Linked DNA regions of Homo sapiens. The gene in region 1 interacts genetically with each later gene. Each region holds a gene or a part of one and is shown on either strand. Other genes may lie near its edges.

What was found. Genes that interact genetically often act in the same process or in processes that back each other up.
Region 2: changes in PTP4A3 (region 1) and ZNF350 together harm fitness less than expected from each alone (positive genetic interaction), as found in Homo sapiens cells (one study listed by BioGRID).

Annotation. Positions count from the first base shown.
Region 1 is NC_000008.11:141,395,021-141,398,520, forward strand, and holds part of PTP4A3 (protein tyrosine phosphatase type IVA 3), read left to right. Parts: intron 1-3,500. UniProt on the Homo sapiens protein: Protein tyrosine phosphatase which stimulates progression from G1 into S phase during mitosis. Enhances cell proliferation, cell motility and invasive activity, and promotes cancer metastasis.
Region 2 is NC_000019.10:51,973,314-51,977,041, reverse strand, and holds part of ZNF350 (zinc finger protein 350), read left to right. Parts: intron 1-468; exon of another isoform or gene 469-651; intron 652-2,116; exon of another isoform or gene 2,117-2,364; intron 2,365-2,510; 5' UTR 2,511-2,681; coding exon 2,682-2,696; intron 2,697-3,728. UniProt on the Homo sapiens protein: Transcriptional repressor. Binds to a specific sequence, 5'-GGGxxxCAGxxxTTT-3', within GADD45 intron 3.

The DNA of each region.
Region 1 (3,500 bases):
ACGGGTGCTTCCTTCCACCCAGGAGCCTGAGCAGAGGGTGGAGGGTCCTGGCAGCTACCTACGGCAGCTGAGAGCTGCGCTCTTTAGCCGAGCGGGATCAGGGCTACGTGGACACAGCCCGTGCCAGTGTGGGTGGGGCACGAGCTGTGGGTTCCGATGGCCCAGTAGGCGTTCACCTGGCAGAGAGTGTGCGCGTGTCTCCCCTCCTTGGGGCGCCTCAGGTCAGGACCCTGAGAACCTCACTTATCCTTTGAGCTGCGCCAAGGCTGTTGTACAAAAGACAGTTCAGAAAATAAGGACAGGCTGTTCCTCCCAGCCAAGGGTGTGGCCCTAAGGACCCCTAGGTGGGGCATCGCTTCCCGCCAGGCACGTGCCACTCAGTCTTGGGCTGCTTTAGTGGCAGCCTCCTGGTTTGGAAGCGGAACTGAGGGTCAGGGATGACCACATGGCTCAGGGCTCAGCTGGGGTCCTGAGAGTGGGCCCTCAGGTTTACCTTCCTCCTGGAGGGGAACTGGGGGCCATTGCCCAGTGCACCCCCACTTCCCCTTAGGTGCGTGGGCCACCCCTCCCTCCTGCAGCCCCCGTTCATCTACCCAGGATAGGTGCATGGGCCACCCCTCCCTCCTGCAGCCCCCGTTCATCTACCTGGGGAAGGTGCGTGGGCCACCCCTCCCTCCTGCAGCCCCCGTTCATCTACCCGGGGTAGGTGCGTGGGCCACCCCTCCCTCCTGCAGCCCCCGTTCATCTACCCAGTGGGGATGTCCCCTGGCTCCTCTCCTGGCATCTTCCCGGGATGTAGGGGTGCTCCCATGCCCCCCGGCTCCTCTCCTGGTGTCTTCCCCAGATGTAGGGGTGCCCTCATGTCAGGGCTTATGCTTCTAGAAGGAGTGGAAATGCAGCACAGTCATTGCTGTTGCCTGCCAAGGGCCACCCTGGCTGGGGACAGATGGGGCTGCCTCCCCTCTCCCACCCTGTCCTGGCCACCTGCCCCCGCCAACCCTGCCACTGGCTCAGAGGAAGCAGGCCTAACCTGATGTGTAACCCCCACCCCTGCCGTGACTGTAACCCCGTGCCATGTGAAGGTGGGGCTCCTTGGCAGTGCCTGGTGATTGCGGTACAGCCAGAACCGGCCCCATTATCTGGGCTGTGGGTGCCATTGGTCAGGACCGTGATGGACTCATACGTAAAACTTGATGCATTTTAACTCCCTTCATCCTAGAGGATTGAGACCTCTGGCGGGTAAGTGTTCATATTACCGTCCTGCCCTAGAGCCAGGGAAGGACCCTAGGGGAGAAGTGACGTGCCAGGGTCACTGCTGGGAGGAGAGCAGGAATTTGAACGCTGGCCATGCCTCCTTTTTGGGGAAAGGTCAGTAAATGGGCAGGGGAGGGTGCTGGTCATTTGGGTGATGGTGCCAGTGGGGTGAGCAGCTCCAGGTCATCAGGTGGTATGGAATCTGGCCCCGGGCAGCCCGTCCAGCATTCCTCTCTCACCGAGCCCACAGCCCTGGAGCACCTACTGTGTGCCTGCTCTGGCCCACTGGGAACAGGACAGTCCCGAGCCCTGCCCCGAGGAGCTGGCGCCAAGTGGAGCAGCTGCACCACAGGCACACGGGGGACAAAGGGCACCGCTGATGATTTGGCCAGGAAGAGATGAGGTGGGGATGGGGGCTACAGGGTGGGGAGACGGTGGCCTCGGGAAGGGCTAGCTTGGCCACGCCAGCTTGGTCATGTCACCTTCTGAGTCTCAGTGTTCCCTTCTCACGTGGGACAAGACCACGCATAACCCGAGGGGCTGCATGTGTGGAGCCGACAAGCTGACGTGCGGGTCCTGAGTGCACTGAGCCCGCTGGGGTTCCAGACACAGTGGATGAACGATCCAGGGAAGGAAACAGCCTGGGCTGTGCTCTCTGGGACCTGCCCTTGAGCCAGGTACTCCTGTGGGAGGGTAGCCGGGCTGGCTGGGGGCCTGGAGCCCACAGCCTCTCCTCCCTTGCTGTTTTCCCGGCCAGGGAGGAAGCCAGGCTGGAAGACCCCAGAGGGCTAGGGGGATGAACACAGGTTGATCTGTGTTGAATTTGGCTCTAGCCACCTCCTCAGGGCCAGAGCGGCTCCTGGAGCCGGAGTGAGAGCTGTGTTACACGCAGGGAAGCCGGGGCTCGGGGAAGGTGGCTGCCAGGGTGTGCAGGGCTGTGCCAACCTCATCCTGGTGGGTCCCTGTGACAACAGGACAGGCTGCCTGCCCATTGTACAATGAGAGGCTGATGCTCTGTCACTTCATGAGGTCACACAGGCTCCAGGCAGTGGGGGGCTCTCTGAAGGAGGTCCCAGTGACCTGAATGGAGCCCCCGGGTGGGCTGAAACTTCTGCCTGTAAGGCCTGTCCTGGGTTGGGGTTGGGTGGGAGAGGGCAGGAGTCCTGCTGGGAAGGGCCTCTGCCATGCCCAGCTCCTACCACAAGTACAGAACAATGACAACTCCGCCACCTGGCTGCCCCACGCTGGGCACATGCTCCCCGCTGGCCTCAGTTGGGAGTCCAGTGAGTCAGGAGGTGAAGGTGGGGTGCACGTCCCCTGCAGACCCTCACAAGGCAGGTGGCGGGGCGGGTATTGGTCATGAGAACCCTGCCTTGGGGCCTGAGTGCCTCGGTGGCTGTGGAGCCTGGTTTCGACCTCTTTGGGACCAGTGTTCTTGTCCATAAAAGGCAGTGATCTTTCTGGATAGTTCAGAGAGATTCTGTTATCTTTGCCCATCAGAGCTGGAAGGGAGTTGAACAAAATGTTTTGCAGAAATTGGACCTGAGTTGGGCATTGCTCCTCCTGCTGCCCCTGGTTCTGAGGGCTTGGCACCACTAGCCCGCTCTCTGTCCAGGGTCGGCCCGGCTCCTGCCTTTATCATGTGTGAGCCTCGCTGTGTGTGGCTCAGTCCTGGACGGGCCGAGACCTGGATGCAGGACCCTGGACAGTCAGCGCAGGCGGAGCAGGGAGGGAGGCGTCTGCCTGAGGCCTGCTTGGAGGTGCCCAGGCTGGAGCCCTTGGCCCTGGAAGATGTGGTCAGGGCCCAGTGGTGTTGGGATGGCCAAGAAGAGGGCCCCTGTGCCTTCTGCCCAGGGCTTGGCCTAGCCAGTGCTCAGGGTTTATTTGCTGGATGAGGGGTGGAGTGGGCCAGTGGGGCCCAGGTCTCCTGCTAGGTGACCCTCAGAGGTGGGCATAACATCCCTTGGAGTCTCTGCTCTGCACTTGCCAATAAGAGGCTGGACCATTTGAGTGGTTATAAGTTGGGAAGCACTCCCTGATTGCTTGGTTCTGCTTGAGGCACAGCCTCCAACTCCCAGAGATTCCAGCACCCCTGCAGGAGCCAGCGTTGCTGATGTGGGCAGACGGGCGTCTGGGAACACCCCAGACTCAGCATACTAGGGTTCAAGTCCCTGACTCCCATCCTGGGGCATGGAGTGGCAGGAACCAGGGAATGTTCTAGAGTGAGGTGGTGAGGTGGAGCAGGG
Region 2 (3,728 bases), on another chromosome or scaffold:
GCCAATTTTTATCCTCCCTCTCCTGTTTTTTATTTTTAATTGGAGCTGTGGGTGGGTCAACAAATTCTTTCAGATTTTTAGATTCAGCTTGCTGTCCTGCAGAATAATAATGAGATAATGGCAGAAGTACAGTACGAACTAAACTCCAAGTGGAGAAAACAGAAGAATCGACTTTAAGACCTTTTTGATGAGCCTGTTTTAATCCTTCTCCTGCTGTATCCCAATTTTCCACATCAAGAGTGCCTGCCTGTGGAAACGATGGGTTATGTGTAATAACCTTTTGTGGCTTCTGCAGGAGGTTAGTGTCTGCGAATTAACCTGAGCTGCAGACTGTCTCAACAGAACTTTAAGCAACTGCACATAATGTTTTTCTTCAATAGACAAATTCTTTCCCTTGTTACCCTGAGTCAGAAAACTTCCCAGTACTTCTTTAAAGCACTGCTCCCAGTACCTCTTTAGGGCACTGACCTTATATCTGCTGCCGGCAGACTCTTCCCAGGGTCCCCTTTCGCCTTGTCAATTTCAGTTCCTCTGCTCCAGCAGACCTTCTTCATTCACGTCCTTGAAGTCCCATGTTTGGATGCTGCTAGTTGGGCGTGCTTGGAGTCCCTGTTCTGGTTGCCATTTGTAACCTGCACGGACCTAGGTGGACTAAACAAAGTGGGGTGAACACGGGAATAAAGATGAGACAAAAGAGTGTATTTGGAAGAAGGGATCGGGGGCGCTTTGCCTCTAGGGGACAAGGGCCCTGAGCTTTACACAGCCCTTCATATTTATTAGGCAAAAGAGACAGTGAGAAGGGGAGGTGGAAGAAGGGGTCAGCTGCTCGGTCCAGAGTAGTCTTGCAAGACTGCATTCTCTAGATGTCGCAGTAGATAACGGCGCCAGGGGTCCAGAGTAGTCTTGCAAGACTGCATTCTCTAGATGTCGCAGTAGATAACGGCGCCAGGGGTCCAGAGTAGTCTTGCAAGACTGCATTCTCTAGATGTCGCAGTAGATAACGGCGCCAGGGAGTGATTGCCTCCAGCAAACCTTCATCAGCCGGAGCAGTCATGAGTTTGCTGACATCCTGCATTCATGATAAACAGTTTGCTGTTTGATCTGTAGCCTCCAGTGGAATGCTGAGTTGGTCACGTCCCACGGGCCACGAGCCTTCGGCTCCCTGCAGCAGGTGCCTGTAAACTCAGCTACTCGGGAGGCTAAGGCAGAGAATTGCTTGAACCCGGGAGGCCGAGATCACACCATTGCACTCCAGCCTGGGCGACAGAGTGAGACTCCATCTCAAAAATTAAAATAAAATAAAATAAACCCCAGATGTTATTGGATTTTAATTTTTAATCCATTCTGACAGTTTTGAGGCATTTATATTTAATGTAATTAACTGGGATCCATGCTCTGTTTTTACTTAGCATAAAATACTTAATGTAATGTAATTTTCTTAGTACATTTTATTTTAAAACAGCTATCTAAATGCATTGTATTTGCTCTTTTTGCTCTGTTTTTGATTCTCTTCTTTTGGATGAATTTCTTGTTATTACATTTCCCCCTTTTGTTGGCATGGAACTTACGTACTTTAAAACAATTACTAGTTTTTTTTTTTTTTTTTTTTTTTAAGACGAGGTTTCGCTCTTTTTGACCAGACTGGAGTACAATGGCACAGGCTTGTCTCACTGCAACCTCCATCTCCCGGATTCAAGCAATTCTTCTGCCTCAGCTTCTGGAATAACTGTATTTTTATAGAGATGGGGTTTCACCATGTTGGCTAGGCCGGTCTCGGACTCCTGATGTCAGGTGATCCACCCGCCTCGGCATCCCAAAGTGCTGGGATTACAGGCGTGAGCCACTGTGCCTGGACTTACTAGTGTTAATTGTAACTAGAGATTACATGTAGTGTGCAACCTTTGTCATATTCTTCTGCTAATTGGCACTTTTCCATTCTACAGAAACCTTAGAGCACGTCAACTTTATTCACCACCTAATTATCCAGTAAATTATTGTGTATTTTAGCTTTTTATGTATTTAAAACCTCCTAAAATATTGTCAGTACTGTTTTTATGACAATGCTTATGATTTGCCCAGTACATTGGCTTTCAAACTGAAGTACATGTCTTCACAGGGTGTATGTACAAAGACTTTTGAAGAGGTGTGGGAGCACACATGATTTAAAGGAAAACAAAGACCAGGTCCTCTCCTTGCTGATTGTCTCTTTTCTAAAACTAATCTGCCTAAGAGTTCACCATCTCCTGAGGCTGGTGCTATGGTGGGTCTCATTTCCTACCTGCCTTCACAGTCCTTCCACGGAAACGTCACAGAGGAAAGGCATACCTCCACCACATTAAGAATCCTAGACATTATTGGCCACAGGTATAAAATCCGCTGGGGCTCCAAACAAAGGTATATAGTTAACTATATTGGGGGCATTGCTTTAAGATGAGTGCCTAGCAGCAGTGACAGTATCTGGGCCTGGAAAAAATGTACCACTTACATTGAATTTGCTCTTCAACCCACAGGTTCTGACTCCTCAGGAGCAAAAAACATAACCTGAAGAGGGAGGAAGTGGATTTGGGGTTCACCATTTCTTGGGGCACACTTGATTGAAAACTGAGACTTCTGAAGAGAAGGCCAGAAGATACAAAGACAGACCATCCCAGTTGAATGCTGTCTTCCAAGAACAGAAGAAAATGATCCAGGCCCAGGTAACTGACTTTTGGTTTGTTTTATTCTTTCCTTTGTTCCATAATAGATTTGTAGAAGCCTATAAACATCAATTTCACTAATATAAAAAGTATAAATTTCAAAAAGCAGGATCTGGAGAGAAGTAAGCTTAGTTTTTAAACTCAATATCATGCAAAATAGTAGGATAAGGAATATAATGTTCATAGCATTAACACTAAATTATGAATTTTGTGACACCATGCATGGCTGGAGGATCCTGTGGATTATATTAGCTGTCAGCTTGCATCTAATATCTCTGACAGCCAATGTCACAAGAAAATCATAATTTACATGGTATGTCCTGTTTTTGAAGATAAAACAGATTACTTCCTGGGGGTTGCCATTATTTCATGGCACTTTGGTCTCAGGAAATTTCTTCAGTGGTTCTTCCTAGAGTTGATGTGGTGGATGGTGTCCAGAATAGCAGCCTTCTCATAAATTCAGATGCAGGTTTCCTGTGGCTGTTTCTTGAAGGACTCCTTATATACTGTTACGGAATAGACTAAGCAAACAGTAAACACAGGGACCAACACAAGTTAATTTCAGCCTTGTGGCAGTCTGGATTTAACTTGGAATAAAACCTAGACATCCTGGGAATATGGCAGGATTCCAGGACTTTCAAATGGTTCTCAATGAACAGATAGCTGAACTGGTGTTTGAATATAGATTTGGAGACAGGGAGTTGAAAGTGATATTGTCTGAACAGGACTTGGATTGGAGTTTACAGATTTCCTTTAGACTTTCACCTTGTAGAAAATGCCAAGTCCTTATTGTATAGTAAATAATTGAACAAAGGGAGTTTTGGCCTTTGTGTTCAAGCTAATGGAGGGTGAGCTCTGGGCTTCTGGAATATCTTGCTAATGGTAGTGTCTTTGTTTGCTTGGGTCCTTTGGCCACTGGACAGCCTAAAAATACGAACTATGATAGATCTGTGATCTATGATAGGCCAGAAACTTCCAGAACTAGAGGCTAAAGTTAAAACCTGACTTCTGGGAGGGTGTGGACCTAAGATC